Homo sapiens: one gene and its partner. The protein of the gene in region 1 interacts with the protein of each later gene in a pairwise test. Each region holds a gene or a part of one and is shown on either strand. Other genes may lie near its edges.

What was found. Proteins that work in one complex are often made in the same cells at the same time.
Region 2: the proteins of FCRL3 (region 1) and STATH interact in binary tests that used the Homo sapiens proteins (3 or more experiments, as listed by UniProt).

The regions. Positions count from the first base shown.
Region 1 is NC_000001.11:157,696,730-157,706,715, reverse strand, and holds the start of FCRL3 (Fc receptor-like protein 3 isoform 1 precursor), read left to right. Parts: upstream 1-5,946; 5' UTR 5,947-6,054; intron 6,055-6,130; 5' UTR 6,131-6,226; coding exon 6,227-6,257; intron 6,258-7,003; coding exon 7,004-7,024; intron 7,025-8,086; coding exon 8,087-8,332; intron 8,333-8,796; coding exon 8,797-9,057; intron 9,058-9,291; coding exon 9,292-9,576; intron 9,577-9,986. UniProt on the Homo sapiens protein: Promotes TLR9-induced B-cell proliferation, activation and survival but inhibits antibody production and suppresses plasma cell differentiation. Enhances activation of NF-kappa-B and MAPK signaling pathways in TLR9 stimulated B-cells.
Region 2 is NC_000004.12:69,998,794-70,004,276, forward strand, and holds the end of STATH (statherin isoform a precursor), read left to right. Parts: intron 1-873; coding exon 874-894; intron 895-986; coding exon 987-1,016; intron 1,017-2,069; coding exon 2,070-2,156; 3' UTR 2,157-2,189; intron 2,190-3,395; 3' UTR 3,396-3,777; downstream 3,778-5,483. UniProt on the Homo sapiens protein: Salivary protein that stabilizes saliva supersaturated with calcium salts by inhibiting the precipitation of calcium phosphate salts. It also modulates hydroxyapatite crystal formation on the tooth surface.

The DNA of each region.
Region 1 (9,986 bases):
TTTTTTTCATGTGTTTGTTGGTCACATATATATCTTCTTTTGACAAGTGTCTGTCCATGTCCTTTACCCACTTTTTAATGAGGTTGTTTTTTATTTTTTTCCCTTGTAAATTTGTTTAAGTACCTTGTAGATGTTGGATGTTAGACCTTTGTCAGATGGTTAAATTGCAAATATTTTCTCCCATTCTGTAGGTTGTCTGGTCATTCTGATGATAGCTTCTTTTGCTGAGCAGAAGCTCATTAGTTTCATTAGATCTCACTTGTCAATTTTTGCTTTTGCTGCAATTGCTTTTGGTGTCTTTGTCATGAAATCTTTGCCTGCGCCTATGTCCTGAAGGGTATTGCTTAGATTTTCTTCTAGGGTTTTTATAGATTTGGGTTTTACATTTAAGTTCTTAATCCATCTTGAATTAATTTTTGTATATGGTGAAAGGAGGGGTCCAGTTTCAATTTTCTGCATATGGCTAGCCAGTTCTCCCAGCATCATTTATTAAATAGCGAATCCTTTCCCCATTGCTTGTTTTGGTCAGGTTTGTCAAAGATCAGATGGTTTTAGGTGTGTGGTCTTATTTCTGGGCTCTGTACTCTGTTCCATTGGTCTATGTATCTGTTCTTATACCAATACCTTGCTTTTTTGTCACTGTTGTCTTGTAGTATAATTTGAAGTCAGGTAGTGTGATATCTCCAGGTCTGTTCTTTTTGTTTAGGATTGTCCTGTCTATTTGGACTCTTTTTTGTTCCACACACATTAAAAAAATTTTTTTTTCTAATTCTGTGAAGAATGTCAATGGTAATTTAATGGGCATAGCATTGAATCTATAAATTGTTTTTTCATGATATCAGTTCTTCCTATCCATGAGGATGGAATGTTTTTCCATTTCTTTGTGTCATCTCTGCTATCCTTGAGTAGTGGTTTGTAGCTCTCCTTGAAGAGGTCCTTCACTTCCCTTGTTAGCTGTATTCCTAGGTATTTTATTCTTTTTGTGGCAATTGTGAGTAGGAATTCATTTATGATTTGGCTCTCTGCTTGTCTACTGTTGGTGTATAGAAATTCTCATGATTTTTGCACTTTGATTATGTACCGTGAGACTTTGCTGAAGTTGCTTATCAGCTTAAGAAGCTTTTGAGCTGAGATGATGGGGTTATCTAGATATAGGACCACGTTATCTGCTAACAAACATAGTGTGACTTACTCTCTTCCTGTTTGAATACCTTTATTTCTTTCTCTTGCCTGATTGCCCTGGCCAGAACTTCCAATCCTATGTTGAATAGGAGTGGTAAGAGAGGGTATCCTTGTCTTGGGCCGGTTTTCAAGGGGAATGCTTCCAGCTTTTGCTCATTCAGTATGATATTGGCTGTGGGTTTCTTATGCCCTAGGATGCAAGGTTCAACATATGCAAATCAATAAATGTGATTCATCCCATAAACAGAACTAAAGACAAAAGCCACATGATTATCTCAAATGCAGAAAAGGCCTTCAATAAAATTCAACATCTCTTCATGTTAAAACCTCTCAATAAACTAGACATTGAAGGAACCTATGTTAAAATAACATTTTGTGTCTTTCTTTTCCATTGAATCTATTCAAAGCATCTTGATTTTCACTTCCTCTTTGAGTGAAGTGCTCCTGACACCTCAGCTCTGAATTCAGTGAGGGACCTCTTATGTGACACAGCATCTACTCTCTCAAGTGAGCAGACCAACCTCTGCTTGATATGGAATTGTACTGGCCTAAGAAGACTGTCTCCTAGGGAATATTTTCACCTTGTACTTACATTTAGTTCAGTTAGAAAATATAACTGACCAGGTGTGTTTCCTCACACCTGGAGCCCCAGCACTTTGGGAGGCAGAGGTGGGTGGATTGTTTGAGTCTAGGAGTTCAGGACCAGTCTGGGGAGCACAGCCCCATCTGTATATGAAAGAATTAAAAAATTAAGCCACCTACAATAACTATGTAATCATGTCAGTAATTGTTTAAATGTTTTCCACCCTTGAGCCAAGAGAATGCCACATGAATTCAAGAGTAATCCATCCAGTTTGCTGCTTGGACCTGAAAGCAGGGTGAGATTTGGGGTGACTGAGACATGGGAAGCTTTTCTAGGCTTCATTCTAGCAATTTAAAACTAGATTCTCATTGGTGTTTTGTAGCATACAAGGAATCTTGGAGCCAAAAATATTATTCCAGTCACCAGTGCCTAAAAATGCTTTAGAGATTTCTATTTTTGCCCCTCCCTCCCCCCAAAAAAAACAAAACAAAAGACTATCTGCTTCAGCTATGACTACCTAGAAAATGTGACTGTGCCTACTGTGGGCCTCTGTTGAACCATCTTGCAGCCCCCAAAGTTCTGTTGCCAGGCAGCACTTGTGTCCTTCCAAGCACTTACTGCCCATACGTAAGCCCTTGCCTTGTCTGTCCCTGCTTACAAGGGCTTCGCAGCAATCTTGAAGGCCCTCACAAGTTTCTTGTGCCTTTTGCTTATTGACATTCATGGGTACAGTCCTGCCTCTATAGAAACAACCACTGACCTATGAACAAAGCCACCACAAGTCGTGTCACAAAACCATATGCCCTAAGACTGCAAGCATCTTGCCCAGGCTCAGTAGTTAAGTATAAAAGGTGGCTCAGAATAGGCCTCTACAATCTGGAAAATGCCCGTCTCTCTTACTAAACAAATCCCAAGGCTGAGAATGACAGGATCTCTTCCCACCAAAAGCCTCTCCTTGTAAATATATAGCTCTCATACATTTGTTCTTTTGTTTTTAGTTCTTTTACATCTAAACCCATGCCCCAATTGTTTGTGTCTCTGAAAATTTGCTCTGGAACTTTAGACTCCCTCACTCCCTCCCCACTTAAATCTCCACACAGGGGAAGGCGTATACTTGTTCATAAACCCTTCTGCCAGTAGAGTTGCATCCAGGGGGAAGAGCATGGAGTTAAGTTTAGCATGGGGCCAGGTGCGGTGGCTCATGCCTGTAATCCCTGCACTTTGGGAGGCCGAGTGGGTGGATCATGAGGTCAGGAGATCGAGACCATCCTGGCCAGCATGGTGAAACCCAGTATCTACTAAGAATACAAAAATTAGCTGGGCGTGGTGGCACGTGCCTATAGTCCCAGCTACTCGGGAGGCTGAGGCACCAGAATCGCTTGAATCCAGGATGCAGAGTTTGCAGTGAGCCGAGATTGTGCCACTGCACTCCAGCCTGGGCAACAAAGTGAGACTCTTTCTCAAAAAATTATAGTAATAATAATAATAAGTTTATCATGACTCAATTATTCTTCCCAAATTTACTGATCACATAAGGCACGTCACTTCTTCCAGGATGGAGTGAGTTAAGGAGCAGAAGGAGGAACAGGAGTAGGAGTTGCATGCACATGGAAGAAAATAGATGTCCCCCCAACACAACCATTCATTAATATATTCAGGCAAATGAAAAGTTATTCTGTTCAATTAGATTTGGCGTATTTAGCAAATAAAAATATGGGACTCCTAGTTACATTTGTATTTCAGATAAACAGTGACTACTTTTTAAATGCAATTATATCCTGATATGGCTCCATGTCTCCACCCAAATCTCATCTTGAACTGTACTCCCATAACTCCCATGTGTTGTGGGAGGGACCCAGTGAGAAATAATTGAATCCTGGGGACAGTTTTCTCCATACTGTTCTTCTGGTAGTGAGTAAATCTCACGAGATCTGATGGTTTGATAAGGGGAAACCCATTTCGCTTGGCTCTCATTCTCTCTTTGCCTGCTGCCATTCATGTAAGATGTGACTTGCTCCTCCTTGCCTTCTGCCATGATTGTGAGGCCTCCCCAGCCATGTGGAACTGTAAGTCCAATAAACCTCTTTATTTTGTAAATTGCCCAGTCTTGTTACGTCTTTATCAGCAGCATGAAAACGAACTCATACATATCCCAAGTATTGTATGGAACATAATTATAGTAAAAATTATTTGTTTTTTATTTGAAATACAAATTTAAATGAGACCCTTGCATTTTATCTGGCAATCCTCTACTGAGTGTTAGGCACTGTGCTAGGTGCTAGAATAATGTGAATATGACATAGTTCCTGTCTTCAGAGAGAGACGTAGAAAAATGTAACATTTTTGGCTACAGATGAGCAATTAAATTCAAAATACTCTTTTCTGAGCATATCTTTCCAACCACAGGAAACAATACTTCAGAGTCATCAACAACATCGTCACCTTTGAGCATGAAGTATATTTGAGGTTTATTCATATTTTGAATTAGTCTGAAATGACACACTGAATCTCGAAGCTATCCATATCCCACTGAACCTTCCTTTTGTTGATGAGCATGCTGTCCTCAGAGAAATAAAAAATAAGCCCTAACCGCTCCCTTCCCTAAAGATACTTAGATCATTGAGGAATACCATCAAAGGGACAGGATGTTTCAGTTCACTGTGATCGGTTCTGGAGTGAAGGAAATCCAAGTGTTATTGATGCACATGAGAGGAACACCCAGCCCAAATGTGGGAGGTCAGAGAATACCTCTCAGTAGATGTGGCACCATACTCTACAATTACAAGTTTACAAAGACCCTGTAGTGTGGATTAACTGGGTATAGTTTAAATAAATAATTTAATTTAATTTAAATAAATTGATATAACCAATATATCTTCTCCAGAATATTGGAGAAATCTCTAACCAGGAATGACTAAGCACACATTGAAACACATCCAATCCTCTTCTATTGTCATCCTGTTCCTTACTGTTTGTTGGTCGTTCATTTGGCAAGTCCTTATTGACAAATTGGTATGTGACAAGTGCTCTGTTAGGCATTGAAACAAAATGAAGAACAAACCAGGCTTGTTCCCAAACCTTGTAATACTATCTAATGAGAAAAATAGGCATTATACAATCACATAAACATATAGAGAATGATAAAATTTGGTGACTTCCATGGGAGAAAGAACATAATAATATTTGTTAAAAAAGAGGACCCTCTTTCCATTACCTGCCAAGGTTGGGCACCCTGAGGATGGGACATTTGATCTGAGATCATCTCCCATTTCTAATGTAAAGGTATCTGAATGATGACAACTTTATCCTGGTAGGTAGATTCCCAAGAATGGCTTACCTCTAAGTCTAAAACACGCCTTCCTAACAGAAGTTATATCACCTTCAAAGGGGCAAGAATTGACTCTTGGGAAGATGAAAAAAACTAATTTTTTAATGTATCAAACACAGCTATACATGCAGCACATAAACACATACATAGTATATTTGTGGTATTAAATTTTCATGGAAAAAGGGGGTGGCTAAAAACAAAATTGTCTAAAAAAGATCCTTAGGGGAGCAATAACGAAAAAATGGTTGAGAAACACTGGTTCAGAGTTTTTATTCAATAGTCCCTCAAATAATACTTACTAAAGGAATGCTTTCAAGAAAGAACAGTTAGAGGTGCGGGGGATATAAGGGGTAAGAAAAGGGGCCCTTAAATGTTAGTGGGAAAGAAGACACGAAAGCAAACAAGGAAATAGAGAAAATAATTGCAAATTGTTATAAACACTGTGAAAAAAACACAAAGGACCTGAAACAAAATAATGGGGTGGAACCTCTTTGATTGCAAAGCCCTTTCTGAGAAGGGCTTTGGCTTTAAAAACGGTGGTACGCTTGCTGATTTATCTCCTAATTTGCAGATCTGGGTGAGATTACGGGAAGTCCTTGATCTGTACATTTGTATTATTTTCCTGTTCAGAAGCCTCATAACAACTTATGTGAAAGTCAAAAAGGCATATGCTTGACACCTTGACTGTGTGATTCACACCACGCTCATTAAGCTTGCCTACATTAGGAGCTGCATGCAGAACCAAAGGCTGTGTGAAGACAAGGTAGTGAAGGGGTTTCCCATATGAAAAATACAGAAAGAATTATTTGAATACTAGCAAATACACAACTTGATATTTCTAGAGAACCCAGGCACAGTCTTGGAGACATTACTCCTGAGAGACTGCAGCTGATGGAAGATGAGCCCCAACTTCTAAAAATGTATCACTACCGGGATTGAGATACAAACAGCATTTAGGAAGGTAGCCACATTCACATTTTCAGAGCCCAAAGCAAAATATGACACTAAGCTCTTCTTCCCTTTTCTGATTCTTGCAGGTCTCATCTGAGTAGCAGCTTCCTGCCCTCCTTCTTGGAGATAAGTCGGGCTTTTGGTGAGACAGACTTTCCCAACCCTCTGCCCGGCCGGTGCCCATGCTTCTGTGGCTGCTGCTGCTGATCCTGAGTGAGTAGATGGGCTATAATGGGGCCACGGCCTCAGTTCCTAAAGGTGACCAGGGAAAAACTCAAGGAGCTTCTATCTCTGCTTCTACTTGGGGTTCAGAGACAGATAGCAAGGGATGGGAAGTGAGCAGAGCTGGGTTCCCTGGACAACCAAGAGGCTCCAAATGCAACCATCAGAGCAAGCCAGATATCCTGACCTTGGTTTCTCACCCACTGCTTTTCTCACCTCATAGGAAACTTGGATTTTTCCTTCTGCCAAACCACAACTCTATATCCCACCCTCCCTCTTAAGCCTCAGACTAAATAATTTTTCAGATGAGCAGTTACTTCTAAAAACCTAGGCACGTGAAGGAAGGTTTACTGAGAAACATCACTGTTTTCTAGAAGTTTTAAGCCAAAATTTAATCAGAGATTGAAAAAGTGAGGGGAACAATAGGAGCCCAAGGAACGAAAGGAGGATAAACCATTTCTGTAAGTCCTTGTCTGCCTCTGCACTCAGAGAAGAGAAGGAGAGAATAAAGTGTGCCGTGGCCAAGTAAATAATAGCAGAGATGAGGTCAGGCCTTGGACATAAGCCATCACGTTTGTAAAATACATTATATGACATTTTCTTTGTTGTTTAGGGGCTCTGGATGATATAAAAAGGGAGCAAAGAAATGATAAGGAAAAACAAAAGAAGTGGTTGTGGTTAGGTTGTTAGAAAATGTTTCGGAGAGTGTCTGATTGTCATTTTCTGCTCCCTCACAGCTCCTGGAAGAGAACAATCAGGTAAGTTTCTCCTTCTCTCTGCCCCTCTGGTCTCTGGATATTGGTCCCCTCAGCCCACACAGCCTGCCCTAACCCTTGCAGGCACGCATCCCATCAGCAATGCTAATGCTCTGGGGTCACATCTGCTACTATATTGGGTGAACAGAGCCTCCTCCGACTTTTTCAGTCTCTAGGTTTTTTTTTTTTTTTCTCCCTACATTACCGGTATTCCTCAGACTACAGGAAGGAAACACTTGCAGAGCAAAGGACAGAGGCAAGAGGCTGATGATGAAGGAATCTCATATGTGATCTCCATATTCTCTAGTACATCTCCCTCTGAATGTCCAAGCTAGTGCTGCTATCAAAGGACATAGAAATAGATCCCATCCACGGAGGAAGATGCTACAGCAGAATCCTTATAAATCTCCAAAAAGAGCTCATGCCACTGCCACACCTCACTTCCATGCCTGTCAGTCAGTTGCAATTCCATACACAAGTCTGACTTCTCAGGCAACCCATCCTCCTCCATTTAAATTCTTTATATCCCTCCATTGTTTACTGTGTCCAACTTAAATGGAGAGTAAAGTTGCCTTCCCCATAGACTTTCAAAGCTAAGAGAGATATAAAAGTAATACAAGTGAGAAAATCTTATTCATTTTAAGTGTTAACAAGTAGGAAGTAATTTTCTGGAGTCTAGAAACTACTTCTGAGGTATATACATCCCAGGTTCACCTTTATCTGGACAGAAATGTATAGGACAAGAGAATTTCAGGATCAGCCACATTCTGAGGCCTTCGCAGTTTTTGCCCAATGGCAAATCACATCTCCTGAGCTTTTCTGAGGCTATGCCAGGAAACTGAGACCTCTCCCCTATAATACCCTTCTGCCCACCTCCAGGAAATGGATGAGGAAGAACAGATTCTTTCCCAGGCATTTCCCTAGGTTATTTCTGCTCAATTTTCCACCCTGGTCCTGACTGGAAATTAGTCCAGGAAAACTCCTGACTGTAGGTTGGGCTCCCCATGTGCTGTGCCCACCTCCCATTGACCTTCCCCTGCCTTCATCTTTCTATTTCCTGTTTAGGGGTGGCCCCAAAAGCTGTACTTCTCCTCAATCCTCCATGGTCCACAGCCTTCAAAGGAGAAAAAGTGGCTCTCATATGCAGCAGCATATCACATTCCCTAGCCCAGGGAGACACATATTGGTATCACGATGAGAAGTTGTTGAAAATAAAACATGACAAGATCCAAATTACAGAGCCTGGAAATTACCAATGTAAGACCCGAGGATCCTCCCTCAGTGATGCCGTGCATGTGGAATTTTCACCTGGTGAGGAATGGAAGGGGAGTGTCTAAAGTCAAGCCACCAGGCAGAATGCCTGAGGGCCGGGTTAATGCAGGGATCCTAGGCAGAGTTGTAAGCAGACATGGGGATTGATGCACTGACCCCAGTGGGGAAAATAAAGAGATAGGGCAGCAGCATGATGCTGGATTGTCTATCCATCTACCTCCAAAGAATTGTGGGTGACCCAGGGGCCATCAGGCAAAAAGGGGTTCAAGTCTGGGATTCCTCTTTTGTGAAAAGACATGTGAAGATTTCTCAAGAACATTTTCTGGGAATTGGTTCACCCTTGTAGGGCAAGGAAGAATCAGGTATTTGGGGCCACATGGCAATGTGGGTGGGGGCCATTTGCAGGTGTGTATAGAACTGTGGCTCTTGCCTCATGGGTGGAAATGAAAGTGAAGGCAGAAACAGCAGGGGATAACCTGAGTGTGCTCCTGTGCTCTTTGCAGACTGGCTGATCCTGCAGGCTTTACATCCTGTCTTTGAAGGAGACAATGTCATTCTGAGATGTCAGGGGAAAGACAACAAAAACACTCATCAAAAGGTTTACTACAAGGATGGAAAACAGCTTCCTAATAGTTATAATTTAGAGAAGATCACAGTGAATTCAGTCTCCAGGGATAATAGCAAATATCATTGTACTGCTTATAGGAAGTTTTACATACTTGACATTGAAGTAACTTCAAAACCCCTAAATATCCAAGTTCAAGGTAATGGCTAGATTCCTGTGGATTACTGGGTTTGTTAGGGAAACTGGGGATAAAGGGAAGATGTTTATCAGTGGGAATTTCATAAAGAGTCTCCTATGGCTCAGCCATGGGAGGGAGATGGTTCCTTCTGCATGCTTCTCTATCTCCTGATGGCTGGTGCTGAGATGACAAATGCATCTCTCTAGGAACTCTGAGCCTCACCACCCTGGAGACTATGTTGTTTCTTTTCATTAGAGCTGTTTCTACATCCTGTGCTGAGAGCCAGCTCTTCCACGCCCATAGAGGGGAGTCCCATGACCCTGACCTGTGAGACCCAGCTCTCTCCACAGAGGCCAGATGTCCAGCTGCAATTCTCCCTCTTCAGAGATAGCCAGACCCTCGGATTGGGCTGGAGCAGGTCCCCCAGACTCCAGATCCCTGCCATGTGGACTGAAGACTCAGGGTCTTACTGGTGTGAGGTGGAGACAGTGACTCACAGCATCAAAAAAAGGAGCCTGAGATCTCAGATACGTGTACAGAGTGAGTGTCTAAGGGGCTGCTCTTCCAGAGTCAGAGCTGGGGAGAGGAAGGCCAGTGATATCTCCTGCACCCCTAGGATGGTGGACATAACAGAGAGGAGTGTCCAGCTATTCTGGTAATCTTCTCTCTTTAAGCTCAACGTTGGTCTAACAGCCCTAGAACATTTTCTTCCACTTGAGTCAGGTAATAGTAATTATTGATCAGTTACTGATTGCCCAACCCTATGGGGTTACAGAGATGTACAAGATCGGTTCTCTCATGAATCAAGAGACAACTAGAAGCACAACTGAACACATGCAGTTTTAAGAGGCCCCTGTGGTGCTTCCATTTGGTAACCTGAACTCACAACAAAATAGTCCGAAAAGGGGAAGATGAATATGAACTGTAATAGTCAGAGAAAGACATGGAGA
Region 2 (5,483 bases), on another chromosome or scaffold:
CTAGACAATCTGAAGTTAGAAATCTCAGGAATGAACTAGGTGCACTTGAGTGGAATTCAAGTATTAGAAGATGTCAAAGTAGAAATTTTCAAGTCATTCCTTGCAAAAACTAACTTAAAATTAGTATACAATTATTTAGCACACACTTTCTAAAATAAAGCTGCTTATTTTTAACTATAAAACAAAACTTCAGATCTATGACATGTTATGAGTTCCCAGCTTTTATTGTCATTTACTACTATGTATCACTAGGTAAAGCACTTGACTTCTCTGGAGCTCTTTCTTCTACTCTACTTCCTTCTATTTCTCCTGTCCCTTTTCTATGACATTAGTAGGAAACTGGCCATGAAAGAATAAAAATAGTTCAACTTACCTGGTAAATTCTAACAGATATTTCAAAAACTAATTTGATTATAAAATCACAGTATACCACATTATTTGTTATAAAAGGATAGGTGTCTAAAAAATAAAAAATAAAAATGTAAGGAAAACAGAGAAAAACATAATGCTTGTCTCTGTCAGTAAATAAAAGTTATGTGTAAGTAGCCTTTGAGCTGCTGAAAACATATTCTTATGAAAAAATACAAAGTTTCACTTTTCATTCACCAATGATAACCATTTACTCCCTTTTACACACAAAACAAGTATAAATCCAAATAAATTTATATTTGAATATAGCACACTAATTACAGAAAAGCATACTCTTAACTCATTTTAAAGATGTCATGAAGCAAAAATAACTAATTTAGTGTCTATCGATGATTTGCCTACATCCTGTTTACTCACAACTGTAGCTGCTGAGTTCATTTTTGTACTCAATCTGGAATTATAACATTAAGATACTAACTATTGTCTAATTTTCTGTTTTCTAAGGGAGCTGATTCATCTGAAGAGGTGAGTCATTTTCATTCACTGGAAAACTTGTTTTCAGTTTTGTCCTCCCTACATTTGTATTGAATTATTAAACTTTTCTTCATTTTTCACAGAAATTTTTGCGTAGAATTGGAAGATTCGGTGTAAGTGTTCTCTGATAATGCTGTGTAGTCCAAATAAATTGTGTTCTCTGATTACTTATTCTTCTAGAAGAACCAATACTTATTTCTCAAATATGTGTAGTAGTTGCAAAAGTGTGCTTTGTTTTCCTCTATTTATGATACACAGGTAACAGTCACAAATGTATTGTGTCCTAACAACATTTAAGTTGAAACTCATAGTGCCAACCTGAAGAAACCAGTTACTCCCTGAGCCCTCAAGTATCATCTCCTAAGTAATCACTTTGACCTAAAAAATAGTTGAAATTCTAATTCTGTTAATTATAATATATGCCTCATGGAGCATAAAGGCTGATAATTACACATAAAATATGGTAAGTTTGCACCTTCTGATTTTTTTTGACGGTGATAAACTCATTAAATTAAACAGGTCATGATAAATGAGATAGCAAATTTCATTTATTTAACATTTTTCTTAATGTATGTATCTTGATGTCCCAGTATGTTGACATATAATGTCAATGTGATAGGGTTGCAAAAGATCCCCTAACTAATATAGTGAATACATGGATTAAAATAACACCAAATAAAAAGATACTCTAAAAGGGATGATGGTTATTTGTGTTAACAGAAGGAAGAAGTATTAAGGAATGTAGGAATCGTAAGAGACAGTAAGCTCATTAAAAGAGTGACTTGAAGAAACACCACATAAGCTGAATTTAGTAAATGTCTCCTTCCCATAATACTCAAAGGTGGGCAAAATGGTTGCTGGGAGGTAGTATTTTGAAGAAAATTTAAAACCTCTTTGGAGTGATAGCCTATAATCGGTGTTCCTGCATGTGAAATAAAACCACAAAACTGTGAACATGCAGTACAAAGGTAAACACTCAATCATTTTTACCTGCTTTTAAAATGTGTTTATAACCAAAAAGAAAAATCTAATTGAAAGTTTGGAAAAAAATCTTATAAGTAATATGTAAGTTCCTAAAACTTTAACAATCTAAGCTTCTAATAAAAACGCTTGCACTGTCATTATCTCAATTTTCTGCAATTTTCTTTCTCCTTGTGTGTATACAGTATGGGTATGGCCCTTATCAGCCAGTTCCAGAACAACCACTATACCCACAACCATACCAACCACAATACCAACAATATACCTTTTAATATCATCAGTAACTGCAGGACATGATTATTGAGGTAAGATGGGTTTAGTGACATTTTTTTTACTTTCTGTATCAGTGCTGACAGTTAAAAGAAGAAAAACAAAAACAAGACATTAAACCAACAGCAGTTCCAGTATAAGAAAGCAGCCAGCTGTATAGCTCCTTGAAATGTATTAATTTATATAAATGCTTCTGAGATAGTCTCTGTCCTGCTATGGTTAGAAGGCAGTGTTATAGAGTGGGGGACACCAGGGTTTGTATGCTGGCCCTGACAACTACTAGTTTCATGACTTTGAACTACTCCTAATGCTCCTGAACCTCAGTTTTCTCGTCAAAAAATTGTGTATTATGATAACACTTAAATGTGCTTTTTAGAATTGGTGACACTTTTGAAAGACATATCACATAAAATCTCTTGATCAGAAAGGTTTGTAGTTATAACTGCAGGGCTTCCCTGCCACTAAATCTGTACCTAGGTGTTGCTTAAAGTTTTCACTCCCAAAATGCAATCTTTGGAGAAGCTTCCATCTGGGAACCATCTGGGAACTTGTGAGAAATTTGCATTTTGTACCCTAAGTAACTCTACTGAGCAATTACTATAGAAATTATTAACATAATGCTAACAAGAAAATATGGAAATGTTATCAATTTCTTTTTAGAAAGTCAGTTTTACCTATCTCTACACAACATTAAATGTTCTAAATTCTATGAAAAAATAATATTTCAAAACAAAATAGAGCAAACTCTTGGAGATAAGGGAGGATTGTTCTACAAAGTTAAAATAGTCCAAAGGATTTCAATTATTTTTCAGTGCATTTGGGAGATTATATTCCAATTCAATTCTCTATTGCCATTAGTGATACAGGGAAGAGCCTGAACTTGATCCCCTAGGTTTTAGGTAATAGCTGATGACATTTAATCAAGAAAAGATGTATTGAAATATTATTTAGAGGAAATGCATATAAATGAAATGTGTAGGCTATATTTAAGTAGAAGAATAAAATAGTATGATGATTGAAAAATAATTTAAATTGTAGATGCTGAATGATAATTTTTATTTATTCAGGAACCAATTTAATAATTGTTTAATTGTCTACTCTGTGTCAAATATTATTTTGGGCCCTGCATTTTATAAACTATAATTGTATATAATATCTACTCTGTACCAGGCCAGAATATAAATGTGTTTACAGGGGTAAAAATTTTACAGATAATCTGTTATTTTTTTTTTTCTGTGCAGGCTTGATTGGCAAATACGACTTCTACATCCATATTCTCATCTTTCATACCATATCACACTACTACCACTTTTTGAAGAATCATCAAAGAGCAATGCAAATGAAAAACACTATAATTTACTGTATACTCTTTGTTTCAGGATACTTGCCTTTTCAATTGTCACTTGATGATATAATTGCAATTTAAACTGTTAAGCTGTGTTCAGTACTGTTTCTGAATAATAGAAATCACTTCTCTAAAAGCAATAAATTTCAAGCACATTTTTACATGTATGCTCCTTATTTTTCTCTTTTCTATTTATAGGAATAATGATTTCTTTCATCATCTTCTTTCCCAGTTTGACTAGCACAGATTGAAGCCCATAATGTCAGAGGTCCTTATTTATAATTTAGTCTGTCATATTTTATATGTTACAAACATGGTACTCAAACTCACTTATTATTAGAGCTATTTATGCCAAGATTTGATTTGCCCATGGTTTCCTTTGCCACACCACAGTTGCTAAGCCTCCAAAGCACTCACATTTTTTATCTCAGTCCCTGTAGGTCAGAAGATAACCACCATGTCACTCTACAGCAGTATGTAGGCACTCTGCATGTAAACCATCTAATGCCCTCCATTAGTTTTTCAGCAATGACTTTTATTCAAGAAATATTTATTGAATGACCCCAGCTGTCAGGTCCTCTTCTAGATGCTGCAGACAAAGAGAGACAAAAGTCCTGTCTTTGGAGAGTTTACATTGTAGTTGGGAGATGCAGATACAAAGTAAATAAATAGTACATATCTTAGGCAATGATAAGTGTGCTAAAGAAGTATAAGCATGTCTAGGGCACAGAAACAAATTTAAACAGGATAGTCAACAAGAGACTCTCTGACATAGTGACATTTTATGAAAGATATGAACTAAGCATGAGAGCGAATATGGAGAAATAAATTTTCCAGCAGAAAATAGCAAATGCAAATTTATTGTGATAGAAACATGTTTGTTTCATTAGGGACAAATTCAAGGAGACCAATATGGACAGAGAAGGCAAGTGGATCAAAATAAATTACGTCACAGCATAAGGGATACGCAGGTAACTAAAGCTTTGTGGCCCATGTTAAGTCTTTGATTTGAGATGGATGACATTGGAGAAAGACATAATCTTATTTATATTTTGGAATGGAATCAAGGGTTGAATCATAGATATCCACACTTGGGCCTTACAGAAATCTGTGGGTCCTTCCTATTTTTATGTCCTTTTATTCTATGTGTTCCTTTTAAAATTTATTTTATTTTCCTCTAAGCCAGTACTTCATATTTTTCATTCACTATATACTTGCAATAACTCAAACAATTCCAGTGAACTTCTGGGTTTGGGTAACTCTACTTGCTAATATCTCAATCCTATAAATCCCTAAATTTTATATCATGTTTCTTTATCAAAACCTAGATATATAGAAAAAATGTGATTTTTTTGTTTTCTAAATTTGGAGTACAACATTGCTCACCAAGTTTTTTCCACGTATTTGATGCAATACCTCTCTCATTAACCTACAATAAATTGCCCCAATATTTGTTTTCTGAAGGAACCAACTCATCTCACTCAGTAGTCAATTTCAAAATAATAATATTGATAATAATAATAACAACAACATACGTATTTGAAAGGAAAATTGAATTCATTAGGCATAAGTGTCTTAAACTTCTTACTCTCACTTTTAATAAATTAATCTATATCTGATCAGATTTCTAATTCTCAAAGTCTTAAAGGTGAAGATGACTGTCATGTTTTCCAAAGATATTTTTTCATTATTCTTTGTTTTGCATTTTCTCCTTTATTCTCAGAGAAATTTTTGAAACTAAGATGTTCTTTCAAATGAATACTATCATGCTAAAAATAATAATAAAACAACCTAATATTTACCTTTAAATAATGTATATTTTAAATTTCTCATATATATGAAATATATAAATATATAAATCATATTTCATATTATATATTAATATATGAAATATATATTTTCATTTAATTCACTTTCAACTATTATTATAACATGGTCTGGGTAACTAAATTGTAGTTTAAAGAAACTACAGAATCCCCTATTT